Linked DNA regions of Homo sapiens: region 1 is reported to be linked to region 2. The links are microRNA targets in miRTarBase. Many come from high-throughput screens and were not tested one by one. Region 2 holds a microRNA gene; the other region holds the end of a gene's coding sequence.
The links. Region 2 holds the annotated microRNA hsa-miR-548ah-5p (AAAAGUGAUUGCAGUGUUUG, at 3,328-3,347, shown strand). A microRNA usually pairs through its seed, bases 2 to 8, with sites in the 3' UTR of a target mRNA and lowers its output. Matches are read on the target gene's strand: a 7mer-m8 pairs with bases 2 to 8, a 7mer-A1 pairs with bases 2 to 7 and ends in A, and an 8mer does both.

Region 1 (7,674 bases), not on the chromosome of region 2:
TCTTTGCATTCCTGTGTACTCATCTGTGTACTCACCTGGGGAACTTTACATGCTTATTTATAAGTTTTCCTTATGTATTTTGGTCAGTATGCTTTTATTACATTTATATGTCTATGAAGGATTTAGGGCCTGTGGTATTTTATTATGGCATCTTGCTTATGTAGTTTGTATAATATAGGTTAGATTTGTAAAGTATGTTTATCAGAGTCTAGTAAGTTGAATAATTTGTTGTTTGTATTTCTTTCAGCTATGTGTTCTTCTTTTACCAGAGACCTTTGGCCAGAGCAAGACATAAAAGATTCTTTTCAACAAGTGATACTGAGAAGACATGGCAAATGTGAACATGAGAATTTACAGTTAAGAAAAGGCTCCGCAAATGTGGTTGAGTGTAAGGTGTACAAAAAAGGTTATAATGAACTAAACCAGTGTTTGACAACTACCCAGAGCAAAATATTTCCATGTGATAAATATATAAAAGTCTTTCATAAAATTTTCAATTCAAATAGACACAAGACAAGACATACTGGAGAGAAACCTTTCAAATGTAAAAAATGTGATGAATCATTTTGCATGCTTTTACACCTACATCAACATAAAAGAATTCATATTAGAGAGAATTCTTACCAATGTGAAGAATGTGACAAAGTGTTTAAGCGGTTCTCAACCCTTACTAGACACAAGAGAGTTCATACTGGAGAGAAACCCTTCAAATGTGAAGAATGTGGCAAAGCTTTTAAGCACTCCTCAACCCTTACTACACATAAGATGATTCATACTGGAGAGAAACCCTACAGATGTGAAGAATGTGGCAAAGCCTTCTACCATTCTTCACACCTTACTACACATAAGGTAATTCATACTGGAGAGAAGCCCTTCAAATGTGAAGAATGTGGTAAAGCTTTTAACCACCCTTCAGCCCTTACTACACATAAGTTCATTCATGTTAAAGAAAAACCCTACAAATGTGAAGAATGTGACAAAGCTTTTAACCGATTCTCATACCTTACTAAACATAAGATAATTCATTCTGGAGAGAAATCTTACAAATGTGAACAATGTGGCAAAGGCTTTAACTGGTCTTCAACCCTTACAAAACATAAAAGAATTCATACTGGAGAGAAACCCTACAAATGTGAAGAATGTGGCAAAGCCTTTAATGTGTCTTCACACCTTACTACACATAAGATGATTCATACTGGAGAGAAACCCTACAAATGTGAAGAATGTGGCAAAGCCTTTAACCACTCCTCAAAACTTACTATACATAAGATAATTCATACTGGAGAGAAACCTTACAAATGTGAAGAATGTGGCAAAGCTTTTAACCAATCCTCAAACCTTACCAAACATAAGATAATTCATACTGGAGAGAAACTCTACAAATGTGAAGAATGTGGCAAAGCTTTTAACCGATCCTCAAACCTTACTACACATAAGAGAATTCACACTGGAGAGAAACCCTACAAATGTGAAGAATGTGGCAAAGCTTTCAACCGATCCTCAAACCTTACTAAACATAACATAATTCATACTGGAGAGAAATCTTACAAATGTGAAGAATGTGGTAAAGCCTTTAACCAATCCTCAACTCTTACTAAACATAGGAAAATTCAGCAGGGCATGGTGGCTCATGCCTGTAATCCCAACACTTTGAGAGGACTAGGTGAGCAGATCGCGAGGTCAGGAGTTCAAGACCAGCCTGGCCAACATGGTAAAACCCCATCTCTACTAAAAATACAAAAATTTGCTGGGTGTGGTGGCAGGCGCCTGTAATCCCAGCTACTTGGGAGGCAGAGGCAGGAGAATCATTTGAACCTGGGAGGCAGAGGTTGCAGTGAGCCAAGATCGCGCCATTCTACTCCAGCCTGGGCCACAAGGCAAGACTCTGTCTCAAAAAAAAAAAAAAAAAGAAAAGAAAATTCATACTGGAACGAAACCCTACAATTGTGAAGAATGTGCCAGTGCTTTCAACCAGTCCTCGAACCTTTTTAAGAAAATAATTTATACTGGAGAGAAATTCTACAAATGTGAAGAATATGGCAAAGCCTTTAACCAGTCTTCAACTCTTACTAGGCATTAAAAATTCATACTGTACAGAAACCCTACGAGGGTGAAAAACATGGCAAAGCCTTTAACAAGCCCTCAATTCTTAACAGACATAACATAATTCATACTGGAAAGAAACTCTGCAAACCAGAAAGATCTGGCAATGCTTTTGACAACACCTCAAACTTTTCTAACCATAAAAGAAATTATACTGGTGAGAAATCTTAGAAATCTGAAGAATGAGACAAAGCCTTTAAATGGTTGTCACACTTGATTGTAGGTAAGATAATTCATACTGGAGAAAACACCTACATGTGTGAACAATGTGGCAAAACTTAACCAGTGCTCACACCTTATTGCACAGGAAAGCATTTGTACTTGAGATAAATTATACAAATATAAAGACTGAAAAAGCCATTAATATATGTTCATATCTCAACACCAGATAGTTCATACTTAATAAAAGCATTATAAGTACAATTACTGTCAAAAGACCTTTCAGAAAATACAAGCTTTTGACCAGGCGTGGTGGCTCAGGCCTATAATCCCAGCACTTTGGTAGGCCAAGGCAGGTGGATCATGAGGTCAGGAGTTTGAGACCAGCCTATCCAAGATGGTGAAACCCCATCTCTACTAAAAATACAACAATTAGCCGGTTGCGGTGGTGGTGCCTGTAATCCCAGCTACTCAAGAGGCTGAGGCAGGAGAATCACTTGAACTTGGGGAGGGAGAGGTTGCAGTGAGCTGAGATTGCACTCTAGCCTGGGCCACAGAGCAAGACTCCATCTAAAAAGTAAAAAAAAAAGAAAATATGAACTTTACAGTGAAGAATATTTATTTTGAAGATGAATGTTACAAATATAAAGTGGGTAGTAGTGCCTTTACTTGTATCACAGATCTTATTGTAGACATTTTTTGTAGAGGAAAAACTCTGAAGCACTTTCACACTTTGTTCAATATCAGGGAATTTATATTGAAGAAAAATCATGCAAATGTAGTAAATTTGGAAAAACACTTTTTCAAAAACTACAGCTTAGAAAACAGAGTTCATACTAGAATATATTTTTGCAGATGCAGTAAAAGTTAAAAAAAATTTAATCCATAAGTAAGTCTGTGTAAATATCAGAATTTATGGTAGAAATACATAAGGCACTGACAACATCAGATATACTAAATCAGAGGGCTGAGTATAGAAAATTAAAGTTGGTAGAAAAATTATTTGTATATAACTTTAAGAGGATCAGAAGGTTTTTTGCAGTTATAATTACATTCAAAGTATACTTTATTTCTTGAAAAATATTACAGATTTTTTGAAAAGTGAATAATGATGTCATTCAACTCTGAAATTCCTGCCGTTTCTTCATTCCTATTGGATTCACATGTGAAAGCATGGGATCAATTATTGCTGTATCAAAGATATGAAAGATTCTTTCTTTGTTTTGTTCTGTTTTTTTGAGATGGAGTTTTGCTCTTTCGTCCAGGCTGGAGCACAGTGGCATGATCTCGGCTCACTGCAACCTTCAATTTCCAGTTTCAAGCGATTCTCCTCCCTCAGCCTCCTGAGTAGCTGGGATTACAGGCGCATATCACCACGCCCAGCTAATTTTTATGTTTCTAGTACAGACAGGATTTCATCATGTTGGCCAGGCTGGTCTCAAACTCCTCACCTTGTGATCCACCCACCTTGGCCTCCAAAGGTGCTGGGATTACACAGGCATGAGCCACTGCTCCTGGCAAGAGATTCTTTTTTATTAGGTGGGCATTATTTGTGATCTTTTCTATTGAAAAGTAAAAACATTAGAATGTAAGATGCATAATGAAAATGTAAGTGGAGAGGTTCTTTGGGGTTAACTTATAATATTGAGTGGTGCATGAGGTTGGTGTTCAGAGTAATATTCTGCATTATGAAAAAACATTTAATTTTATTTAAAATTTAGTTTATCATACTAATTGTACTTTTATATAAGATGCAGTACATTTTTAAAATTTTAGATTGTGTGAAGTTAATAGTTTAACATTTTTAACATGTTAAATACTATTGTGCATTCAATGAAGCATTATTATACCACAAACTTTACCCTGTTCCACCTTACTGAAGGGTATAGGTAAAAGATGGTAACGATATACTATTTAGTAACATAATGGATTAACATCTCTAGTAATTTTTTTTGCCAGTGGCTTTAAACCGCAAATAAGTTAAAGAATATTGTTTCTGTAGGTTAAATTTTTATTTTGTTTTTAATCATTTAAATTTAATTTTGGTGGGTACATAATATGAGTATATATTTATGCACTTATATGGCATATTTTAGTACAGGAATACAATATATAATAGTAGCATCAGGGTTAAGTGAGGCATCCTTCACCCATAGCATTTCTCCTTTGTTTTACAAACAATCCAAACCTACACTTTTTAAAAATTTTTTGTTGTTGTTGTTCTTGTTGTTGTTGAGACGGAGTCTCGCTCTGTCGCCCAGGCTGGAGTGTGCAATCTCGGCTCACTGCAAGCTCCACTTCCCGGGTTCACGCCATTTTCCTGCCTCAGCCTCCCAAGCAGCTAGGACTACAGGCGCCCACCACCATGCCCGGCTAATTTTTTGTATTTTTAGTAGAGATGGGGTTTCACCATGTTAGCCAGGATGGTCTCAATCTCCTGACCTCGTGATCTGGTCTCGATCTCCTGACCTCATGATCTGCCTGCCTTGACCTCCCAAAGTGCTGGGATTACAGGCATGAGCCACCGTGCCCGGCCACTTTTTATAAATTTTAAAATGTACAATTGTTATTTACTATAGAGTTATTTTTATGGTCATAATACAAATTATATATGAGTATAAATAAAATTCATTTCTAAACTATTAATATTTTTTCCAAATTGTTATATATTTTTCTTTGAACATGTGGCCTGTCTGCCTGCAAACATGCAGACTTTTTGATTCACATAGAGTTAAATATGTATTAGTCTAAAGACAAACTTTAGGTGTAAGAAAATTATGGAATAAGTGTGTGTGTGTGAGTATGAGTTTGTACCTATTTTCAGAAAAGAACAATATGGGAATAAAAATCATTTTAATAAGGTGGCTACTATAAAACTAAAAACCTTAAAAAATGCTGAAAGCAAATGTATACTTTGTGCTTTGTATTGAATTTATTACTGTACAATCCATGACTTACAGTTCTGAACCTTTTCATGCAAATTCTCTGTATATACTTGCCTGGTACTCATGCTAGACCCATACTTTTTTTGTTTCTTACATTTTTTTTGTTTTATGGTTTAGGAAGTATTCATTATATGAGCTGGTCTGTGATTATAAGAATTTTTATGAAATTTAGTGCACACAAAATAATTTTTAGATGTAATTCCAAAAGTAGTGTATTAAGTTACATTTTATTTAGTGAGAGCACTCCATTTTGTTCTTTTAAGGGGAGAACAATATATAAGTTTTCTTTTCTTTAGTGATTGTTCCTTTCACTTTTTATAATTGACATAAGTATATTTATTTATTGAGTCAATTTGTTCAGGTAAGTACTGGGGGGCTTCATAAGTCATGAGGATGTTTTTATATATAAATGTAGCAAACATACATTACAGTTCTTACTGTGTAATCGATGCTCCATAATAATTCACAAATATTCCTGCTGGAGTTAGTTTGTAATTTCAAGTCAGAAATGAAAGATATCAGTGGTGAAGAAATAAGATTGATTCTTCATATGGAGTGGACATTTTTTCCAGACTATAAAACTGAATCTTGCTGAATTTAAAGAGAAATTCTGGCCGAGGCAGATGGATCACCTGAGGTTAGGAGTTTCAGACCAGCCTGGTGAAACCCGGTCTCTACTAATAAACTACAAAAATTAGCTGATTGTGGTGGCATCCACCTGTAGCCCAGCTACTCAGGAGGCTGAGGCAGAAGAATTGCTTGAACCCAGGAGGCGAAGATTGTGGTGAGCCGAGATTGTGCCATTGCACTACAGCCTGGGTGACAGAATGAGACTCATAAAAAAAAAAATAAATTCTGCTTCTTTTATTTTCTACTTCTCTTCAGATTTGTTTCTCGTATGTATTTTCCAACTATGTATGCATCACAGCCCTTCTTTTTCTGAGTTATAGCTACAGTTTTCTGACTGTTCTCTTCACGCCATTTCATTTCGCCTGGTATTTTGTAGATTTTGATGACAAAATTCTATTTTTAGTGCACTTAAAAATGGATTTTAACTGGTGAGTTCGCTTATCAATATAACATTCAGATTAGTTAATTAAGATAAAAGCCAGGTGTGGTGGCTCACGCCTCTAATCCCAGCACTTTGAGAGGCCGAGGCAAGTGGATCACTTGAGCTCAGGAGTTCGAGACCAGCCTGACCAACATGGTGAAACCCCGTGTCTACTACAAATACAAAATTAGCCACATGTTGTGGCGCATGCCTGTAATCCCAGCTACTCGGGAGGCTGATGCAGGAGAATCGCTTGAACCCAGGAGGCAGAGGTTGCAGTGAGCCGAAATTGCGCCATTGCACTCCAGCCTGGACAAGAGCAAAACTCTGTCTCAAAAAAAAAAAAAAAAAAAGATTAAAGGCGCACACTGTCCACAGGCAAGAGGATTAAATTAGCATTGCATTTCTTTGTTTTTAAAAGAAAAATCTTATTAGATTCTTATACAAAGTGTGGCAAATATAAAACTTGCTTGAAAATATGGAAATTAAATTTTTAAGAGAGTTAATAGTAAACGAATTTAATTTTCTTTTTTTATTTTTACTTTTTATTTTTTAGAGACAGAGTCTTGCTCTGTCTCCCAGGCTAGAGTACAGTGGTGTGATCTTGGCTCACTGCAAGCTCCGCCTTCCGGGTTCACGCCATTCTCCCGCCTCAGCCTCCCGAGTAGCTGGGACTACAGGCGCCCGCTACCGCACCCGTCTAATTTTTTTGTATTTTTAGTAGAGACGGGATTTCACCATGTTAGCCAGGATGGTCTCAATCTCCTGACCTCGTGATCCGCCCGCCTCGACCTCCCAAAGTGGTGGGATTACAGGCATGAGCCACAGTGCCCGGCCACGAATTTAATTTTCTATGATATAATTACAGCACAATTTACATTTCCGTGCAGAATCTTTTAAGTGTGGTGGTAAAGATTGCAAAATAATAAAATGACCTCTGAATTTAAAATTTAGAAAAATATGTCTTTTCTATATTGATTTTACAATTTGGAGAAATTTCTCTTATTTTTTATATTTTTTCTTTTAGTGGGAGAAGTTTAGTCTACGGTTTTTATTTTTAGTCACCAAGCTGTAGCCAACTCCTGGGTCATTTTCTCTGAAAAACATTTGGAGATCATGACAAGTTTTGGATTAAAACATTCTGTTATTTTGCATGCAAACTAGTTTACTGTGTTCACAGACTGGCCAGTCATGGGACCATAAGCAACACCTGCCCCTTTAGTGGCTTTCATACCATTACCACCAGTACCAGAAACTCCAGGTGGCCCAAGCTTAAAGTAAAAATCCTAAAGTACATTGGCTTCTCCCATGCAATGTGCTGGGTCCAAACCATGCTGTTAAATATCAGAGTTCCTATGGTTATGACTGACAAATGACAATAATAGCCCCAAAATACATATTTTTGATACTATTTAG
Region 2 (7,587 bases):
AAGTTACTATTCATATTTTAAAGGGCAATTTTGCAGGTTGTCAACATCTTACCCTAAAGGAGTGAGTTCCCAATGGTGTAATCTCAGTGACAAACTGTATACCGTGATAGGTGACAGGACCTTCAGGTCATGGGCAGAAAGTGATCTTAATAAAGGCTGACCTTGGCCACTGCAGCCTGCATGTTCTGGGGCATCCTGAGGTCTCCCTGTGTGACTGACACTTCCCCTGAGGACTATTCCCAGTGCAGTCAGTAGGAAACCTTAGTGGTCAATGATGGTGGGCCAGGGAGGTGAGGGACAGAGGATGTGTCAGATATCCTAATAGTATATACAGTTTAAAGACTCATTTCATAATTTTGGGAGTTGTTTTCTAGGGATATTGTGATCGTTCAAATGTAAATATCTGCATCTTGAATATACTGGAAAAAAGTGATTGGCATGTTTTAGGGGCAGCTCTAGCAGTATAACAGTGTACGGGTTTGCCCCTTTATGGTTTGTGGGTAGGAAGAGATTTATTCTGAACTAGTTTTCTCTGCTACCCAACTGCTTATGAAATATGAACACAGGCTGGGTTCAGTGGCTCAAGCCTGTAATCCCAGCGCTTTGGGAGGCCAAAGCAGGTGGATCACTTGAGGTCAGGAGTTCGAGACCAGCCTGGTCAACACGGTTAAACCCTGTCTCTACTAAAAATACAAAAGATTAGCCAGGTGTGGTAGCACACGCCTGTAGTCCCAGCTGCTTGGGAGGCTGAGGCAGGAGAATTGCTTGAACCCAAGAGGAGAGGTTGCAGTGAGCTGAGATTGCACCACTGCACTCCAGCCTGGGTGACAGAGCTAGACACTGTCTCAAAAAAAAAATAAAAAAGAAAAAAGAAAGAAAGAAATATGAACACAAGCTTGAAACTCAATAAAATTGAGATTTAGATCTGTCACTTGCCCTCAACAGGCACAACAAGGTAAGGTGGCCAGATTTAACAATTAAAAATACAGATGTCCTATTAAATTTGAATTTCTGATAATCATTGAATTTATTTTAGTCAAAGTAGGTACCCAATTTTATCTACCAAACCTAGTCACATGACAATTTAGATGTATAGAAAAAAATGTAGGTTCCTTGTCTTCCTTACAAACCCACTTCTGCTGGTTGGCAATAATAATAATAATAATAATAATAATAATAATAATAATAATAATAATTTTTATTCCTGGCCAAGTTAAAAGCTCACCTGGTCCAATCAATTTGAATAGTCCCTTAAGGGGCTCAGTCTGAAATAAAATCCTCCCTTGCTCAGATGTCATCTTTTTTCTCCACTGCCCAGCTGTCTTGCTAAACAGTGTCTGGGGATTTGGAGAAGTGGTGAGCGCAGGTCTTTGGCACCATCTCCCCTGGTCCCTTGGCTCTGTCCATAGCCTTCCCAGCCACTGCTGGCCTCCAACGCTGAATCCTGCAGCTGGTAAATCCATGGTCAGCCATGGCCTGGGCAATGCCCCTGGGATTGCTGGCAACCCCACACTTACAGATTCAGTCTCTGCTCAGCTCCCCTTAGCTTCAGACAACTTAGCATCTGCCAAACTCTCATCCCAGCAACTCCTGACCCAGGGCCCATCCTAGGATCATCTCACCCCACCATAGTTGCCTCCTTGCAAGTCTGCTGGTTGCCGTCTGATGTCTGAGATTCTTCCTTCTGTCTGGACCTCTAGAGACCTCGAAATTGAGCCAGGCCAGACCTACTCCAGTGACCTTCTCCTAGGGTCTCAAATGGTGCAGTGGAGCCAGGGTTCCCTGAGCCCTTTGACATTCTCCTCACTTAGCTCACACACTTTCCCTCTCCTCCCTGAGGCTAGAAGAGAAATCAGAACTTGGTCCTCACAGCTTGACTTGCCACCATCTTTTCCCTCATTTCCACAAGTTGCTGGGATCTTGAGGGCTGGGTTTTCTCACTATTTCTCACTCTTCTCTGTGCTTCCCTACTTCTATAACTTCAAGCTTCTTGTCTTAGTTGGGAGGGGTATCTTCTTTGCACGATGGGAAAATTTTGGCAATTAGAATCCTCTAGGCCTCACCCTGGATAGGTTACAATGGTTGTCAAAAGTGTGATCATGCCCAGGAACTTCTGGAAAATACAAATTCCCAGGCCCTGCTCTAAGCCTAATGAATTGGGAACTCTGGAGTTTGAGCCTAGCAATCTGATTTACCAAGTCTTCCCCATGATTCTGATGCACCCTAAAGAACCATGGCATTAAATATTTCAGCAAATTCTCTCTCTCCCTCTCTACCAACGCCTTTCTTACCATTTTTCATGCCTAAACTCTTATTAGACAGACCGGATACTCCCTCTTAATCTAATTGATTGATTAGCTACATAAACTCAAATCATTTTGTGATTAAAAAAAGAAATGTATAGCCTTAAAAGCAAAGGAAATTCTGATATATGCTACAACATGGATGAACCCTAAGGACATTATGCTAAGTGAAATAAGCCAGTCACAAAAAGACAAATACTGTAAATGATTCCACTTGTATAAGGTACCCAGGGTAGTCAAATTCATACACAAAAAATGTAGAATGGCAGTTGCCACAGGTTGGGGGAGGGGAGATTAGGGAGTTTTGTTGAGTAGGTACAGAGTTTCAGTTCTGCGAGATGAAAAGAGTTCTGGACATTGGATCTACAAAAATGGGAATATACTTAATGCCACTGAAGTGCACCCTTAAAAAACGGGTATACCAGCAAACCAAATTCAATAGTACACCAACAAGATCATTCATCACAACCAAGCGGGATTTATCTCTGGGATGCAAGGATGGCTCAACATATATAAATCAATCAATACTATATATCTTCTCAATAGAATGAAGAACAAAACCAGATGATCATTTCAAGTGAAGCTGAAAAAGCATTTGATCCTTTCATGATAAACATCCCTTCATGATAAAAGTCCTTCAAAAAACTGGGTATAGGAGAAACATACTTCAACATAATAAAAGCCATAGATGACAGACCCACAACTAGTATCACACTGAATGGGAAAAAAATTGAAAGCCTTTCCTCTAAGATCTGAAGCACAACAAGGCTACCCACTTTCACTACTGGTATTCAACATAGTACTGGAAGTCCTAGCTAGAGCAATTAGACAAGAGAAAGAAAAGGCATCCAAACTGAAAAGGAAGAAAGCAAATTATTTTTATTTGCAGATAAGATGATCTTATATTTGGAAAAACCTAAAGACTCCACCAAAAAAACTAGCAGAATTGATAAACAAATTCAGTCAAGTCACAGGATACAAAATCAACATACCAAAATCAGCAGCATTTCTATTAGGTTGGTGCAAAAGTGATTGCAGTGTTTGCCAATAAAAGTAATGACAAAAACTGCAGTTACTTTTGCACCAGCCCAATATATGCCAACAGTGAACAATCTGAACAAGAAATTTAAAAAGTAATCCCATTTACAATAGCCACAAATAAAATTAAATACCCAGGAATTAACCAAATAAGTGAAAGATCTCTATAATAAAAACTATTAATATAATACACTGATGAAAGGAGTTGAAGAAGATACAAAAAATGGAAAGATATTCCATGTTCACAAATTGCAAGAATCAATATTGTTAAACTTCTCAAAAGAAGACATATAAATGGCAAACAGATATATGAAAATGTGCTCAACATCATTGATTATTAGAGAAACGCAAATCTAAACTACAATGAGATATTATATCATCCCACCCCCGTTAAAATGGCTTATATCCAAAAGACAGGCAGTAACAAATCCTAGTGAGGATGTGGAGAAAAGGGAACCCTCGTACAGTGTTGGTAGGAATGCAAATTAGTACAACCACTACGGAGAACAGTTCAAGGTTTCTCAAAAACCTAAAAAGAAAGCTACCATACGATCCAGCAATCCCACTATGGGGTATATACCCCAAAGAAAGGAAATCAGTACCTCTAAGAGGTATCTGGACTCCTGTGTTTGTTGCAACATTCTTTACAATAGCTAAGATTTGGAAGCAACTTAAGTGTCCATCAACAGATGAATGGATAAAGAAAATGTGGTACTTACACACAATGGAATATTATTCAGCCATTTAAAAAAATGAGATCCTGCCATTTGCAACAACATAGATCAAACTGGAGATCACTATGTTAAGTGAATTGAGCCAGGCACAGAAAGACAAACTTTGCATATTCTCACTTGTTTGTGGGATCTAAAAATCAAAACAATGGAACTCATGGACACAGAGAGTAGAAGGATGGTTACAGAGGCTGGGAAGGGTAGTAGGAGGCTGGTGGGGAGGTAGGGATGGTTAATGCATACAAAAAGGTAGGATGACTAATACCTACTCTTTGATAGCACAACAAGGTGACTATAATCCATAATAATGTAATTGTACATTTAAAAATAACTAAAATCGTGTAGTTGGGTAGTTTGTAACACAAAAGATAATGGCTTGAGGAGATGGATACCCCATTCTTCATGATGTGATTATTATGTGTTGCATGCCTGTATCAAAACATCTCACGTACCCCATAAATGTATACACCTACTTTATAACCACAAAAATTAAAAATTAAAATGTTAAAATAAAAAATGGGTAAGATGGTAAATTTTGTTATAAATATTTTTAATTTTTAAATTAAATTTTTAAAAATAAAAATAAAGGACTTTGGTGATTAAAGCAAAAATAAAAACTGGGTTAAAAACAGTTTAAGCAATAGGTATTGATTTGGTGAATGGTGACATGGCCAACTCAGCTGATTATTCATTGAACGTAATCCTGGAGGTTAGGGTTCAGAACTGAATACTGGAACAAATGCTCCTGGTAAACATGAGTATTTCACCAAACCTTAATTGAATTTCTGATCTACCTAAAGTATAAGAAGGAGCTGGTCAAATAGATCTGACTCTAGCGTTCCAAAAGGGTAATCGGTGTCAGTGTGTCTGTTGAGATAAAAGATAATCTATACTTGAAATTTTCGCATATCACAGGCTAAAAAGCCCTCTGTGTAAATTAATTCCTAGTGGTCTATATCTTTCTACATTAAAAATATGGGCAAATCAAATTTCCCCATCCACCAAAGGGACGAGGTGCTGGGGAAGGTCTGATTGTTTACTCTTTACTGTGTATTGTTGTCAGCAGTACATTGGTTAACTAGGAATTATTCTAAGTCCCTTCATTGCCCTGTTCTTCCAATCATTTGGCATCAGGTGAATGGTTCCAGCCTCCCTAGAGGCAGCAATAAAGGACAGGGACTGGTATTGGAAGATGGTGGGGCTGTAGACCAATACCTCTGCCTCCTGTATTATTTGTCTACCCAATAAAATAATATTCTTTAATATAACAATTCACGTTTATCAATCTTGTTAAAGGATGAATTAAAGAATCTTTAGAAAAATGCTCCAGTCTAGGTAAAATCTGAACTTATTATGCGTAACACAGGTTCAAGACAAGTCCCCTATAACTCCTTCACAATCCAGTTGCTAACATTTAGCCCCTCTTATAAGAAATTCTGCAGCCACCACTGTTCTAACTCCATTTCCATGCTGCATACATTTTCTGAGAGGGAGAAGAATCTTTAAACATCAAATTCTGCCATCTGTCTCAAAACTATATTCATATAAGACAATGTTTCCATAAGCCCCAGGAAATTGGTTTAGGTAAATAAAGGTAGATAATATCTATGTTAATAAAAGATAGTGATATATTTTCTCTCTCTTCTTCTTACTGTGTTCATTGTTTTTTTTTAAGTACCTAGGTAATGTCATCTTTTAATAACCCACACCTCCACCAATCCTTATAATGTAAATCATTCAGAATTTAGATTCTAAATTAAATAAGGTTTATTATGCTCCTGGTTAAGAAAAGAAGGTTATCATAGTTTTGTGGAAGAGCTAAGAAAACACACCCCTAATTTTATGGGGAGGCTATGGAGTGCAATGGAAAAGTACTTGAACTTTGGAGTAGCCCTGACTTTGAATCTGGACTTTTCACTTATTGGCTGTGTGAATCTAGCTGCATAACCTATTACAAACTCAGTTTCCTTTAGCTATACGGTTGGAGGAAACTTTATCTAAATTTGTATCTCAGGGGGTTTTTGTGGTACTTAAATGAGATCCTCTATGCAGAAGCAGGGTGACAAGCAAGTACTTGGCATATGGTAACCGCACAGGAGATGGTAGTTATCAGAAAGAAGAGGTGTGTGAAAGCAGTAATCACCAGAGCTCTTGGCTAACTTTGTGAACTGCATGGGGTTGTTGAGTTTACCATCATTCTTTTTGGTTGTACCTTACTTATTTGAACACAGTTTTATTTCTTTCAGACTTGATGCAACTATATCTGTTATCAGTTTCTCATGGCTAAGATGTGAACGAGACAACAATAGGCAAAGCTCATTTATGATGTAGACCCAAGGTGGGCTGGAAAGTCTGGAATAAGCTGGAAAGGTCTTGATGGAACCTTTTGTGGGTGTTAGAAATGTTCTATATCATTTTTACCCTTTACATAGATTAGTACACTTTATCCATTCTGTGTATGTTACACTTTAATAAACATTTTTAAATGATTTGATAAGGATCACAAGACCCACCCATACCAAATCCACTATTAAAGCAAGTTGATTTTATTTTTAATAAGCCTCACTGAATTTAATAAAGTTTTTTGTGCGAATTTAAAAATGACATCTGGCTGGGCATGGCGGCTCATGCCTGTAATCCCAGCAATCTGGGAGTTTGAGACCAGCCCTGGCAACATAATGAGACCCTGACTTTACAAAAAATTTTAAAAAATTTAAAAAAAAAATTAGCTGGGTGTGGTGGTGCTTGCCTATGGTCCCAGCTACTCAGGAAGTTGAGGTGGGAGGATCGCTTGAGCCCGGGAGGTCAAGGATGCATGAGTCGAGGTTGTGCCACTGCTCTCCAGCCTGGGCGACAGAGTGTCTCAAAAAATAAATAAACAGGCTGGGCGTGGTGGCTCACGCCTGTAATCCCAGCACTTTGGGAGGCCAAGGCGGGCAGATCACGAGGTCAAGAAATCGAGACCATCCTGGCTAACACGGTGAAACCCTGTCTCTACTAAAAATGCAAAACATTAGCTGGGCGTGGTGGCAGGCGCCTGTAGTCCCAGCTACTCGGGAGGCTGAGGCAGGAGAATGGTGTGAACCCGGGAGACTGAGCTTGCAGTGAGCCGAGATCGTGCCACTGCACTCCAGCCTGGGCAACAGAGTGAGACTCTGTCTCAAAAATAATAATAAACAAACAAACAAACAAACTTACACAAGTACTTGGTCTACAGATGTTTGTTTAATCCACATTAAAAATCTGGAAGTTTTGCATAATCTGGATTTCTGGCTTGTGGAGAAGTCAGACGATCTGGCAGCAGTGGGCTGGAGCTGCATGCTTCCACGTCTAATGAAGCATTCCCTCTCCAGTTTGCCTTGGGGCCCCACTGTTTCCTGTGATCCTACACCTGTTGCTTTGCTCATTTACTCCACCTGCCTGGTCTAGTCAGCATTTGAGTTTGCCAGCCTTGTAACACAAACACTGGTTGGCCAGTTATCTTCTTCATCTCCAGCCAACTGACAAAGTTATCT

Region 1: the mRNA of ZNF714 is a reported target of hsa-miR-548ah-5p. Seed matches in the 3' UTR shown: 7mer-m8 at 5,516-5,522.

The regions. Positions count from the first base shown.
Region 1 is chr19:21,116,560-21,124,233 of GRCh38, forward strand. It overlaps ZNF714 (zinc finger protein 714), which reads left to right. Exons shown (of 5, transcript NM_182515.4): 5 at 248-7,674. The coding sequence ends at 1,773. It also overlaps the pseudogene VN1R81P. Among named protein-coding and RNA genes, the nearest start is that of ZNF431, 22 kb to the right of the region's middle.
Region 2 is chr4:76,572,234-76,579,820 of GRCh38, forward strand. MIR548AH (microRNA 548ah) reads left to right here and starts at 3,318; the gene lies at 3,318-3,393. The region is part of intron 2 of SHROOM3 (shroom family member 3); the gene reads left to right. MIR4450 (microRNA 4450) reads left to right here and starts at 1,335; the gene lies at 1,335-1,399.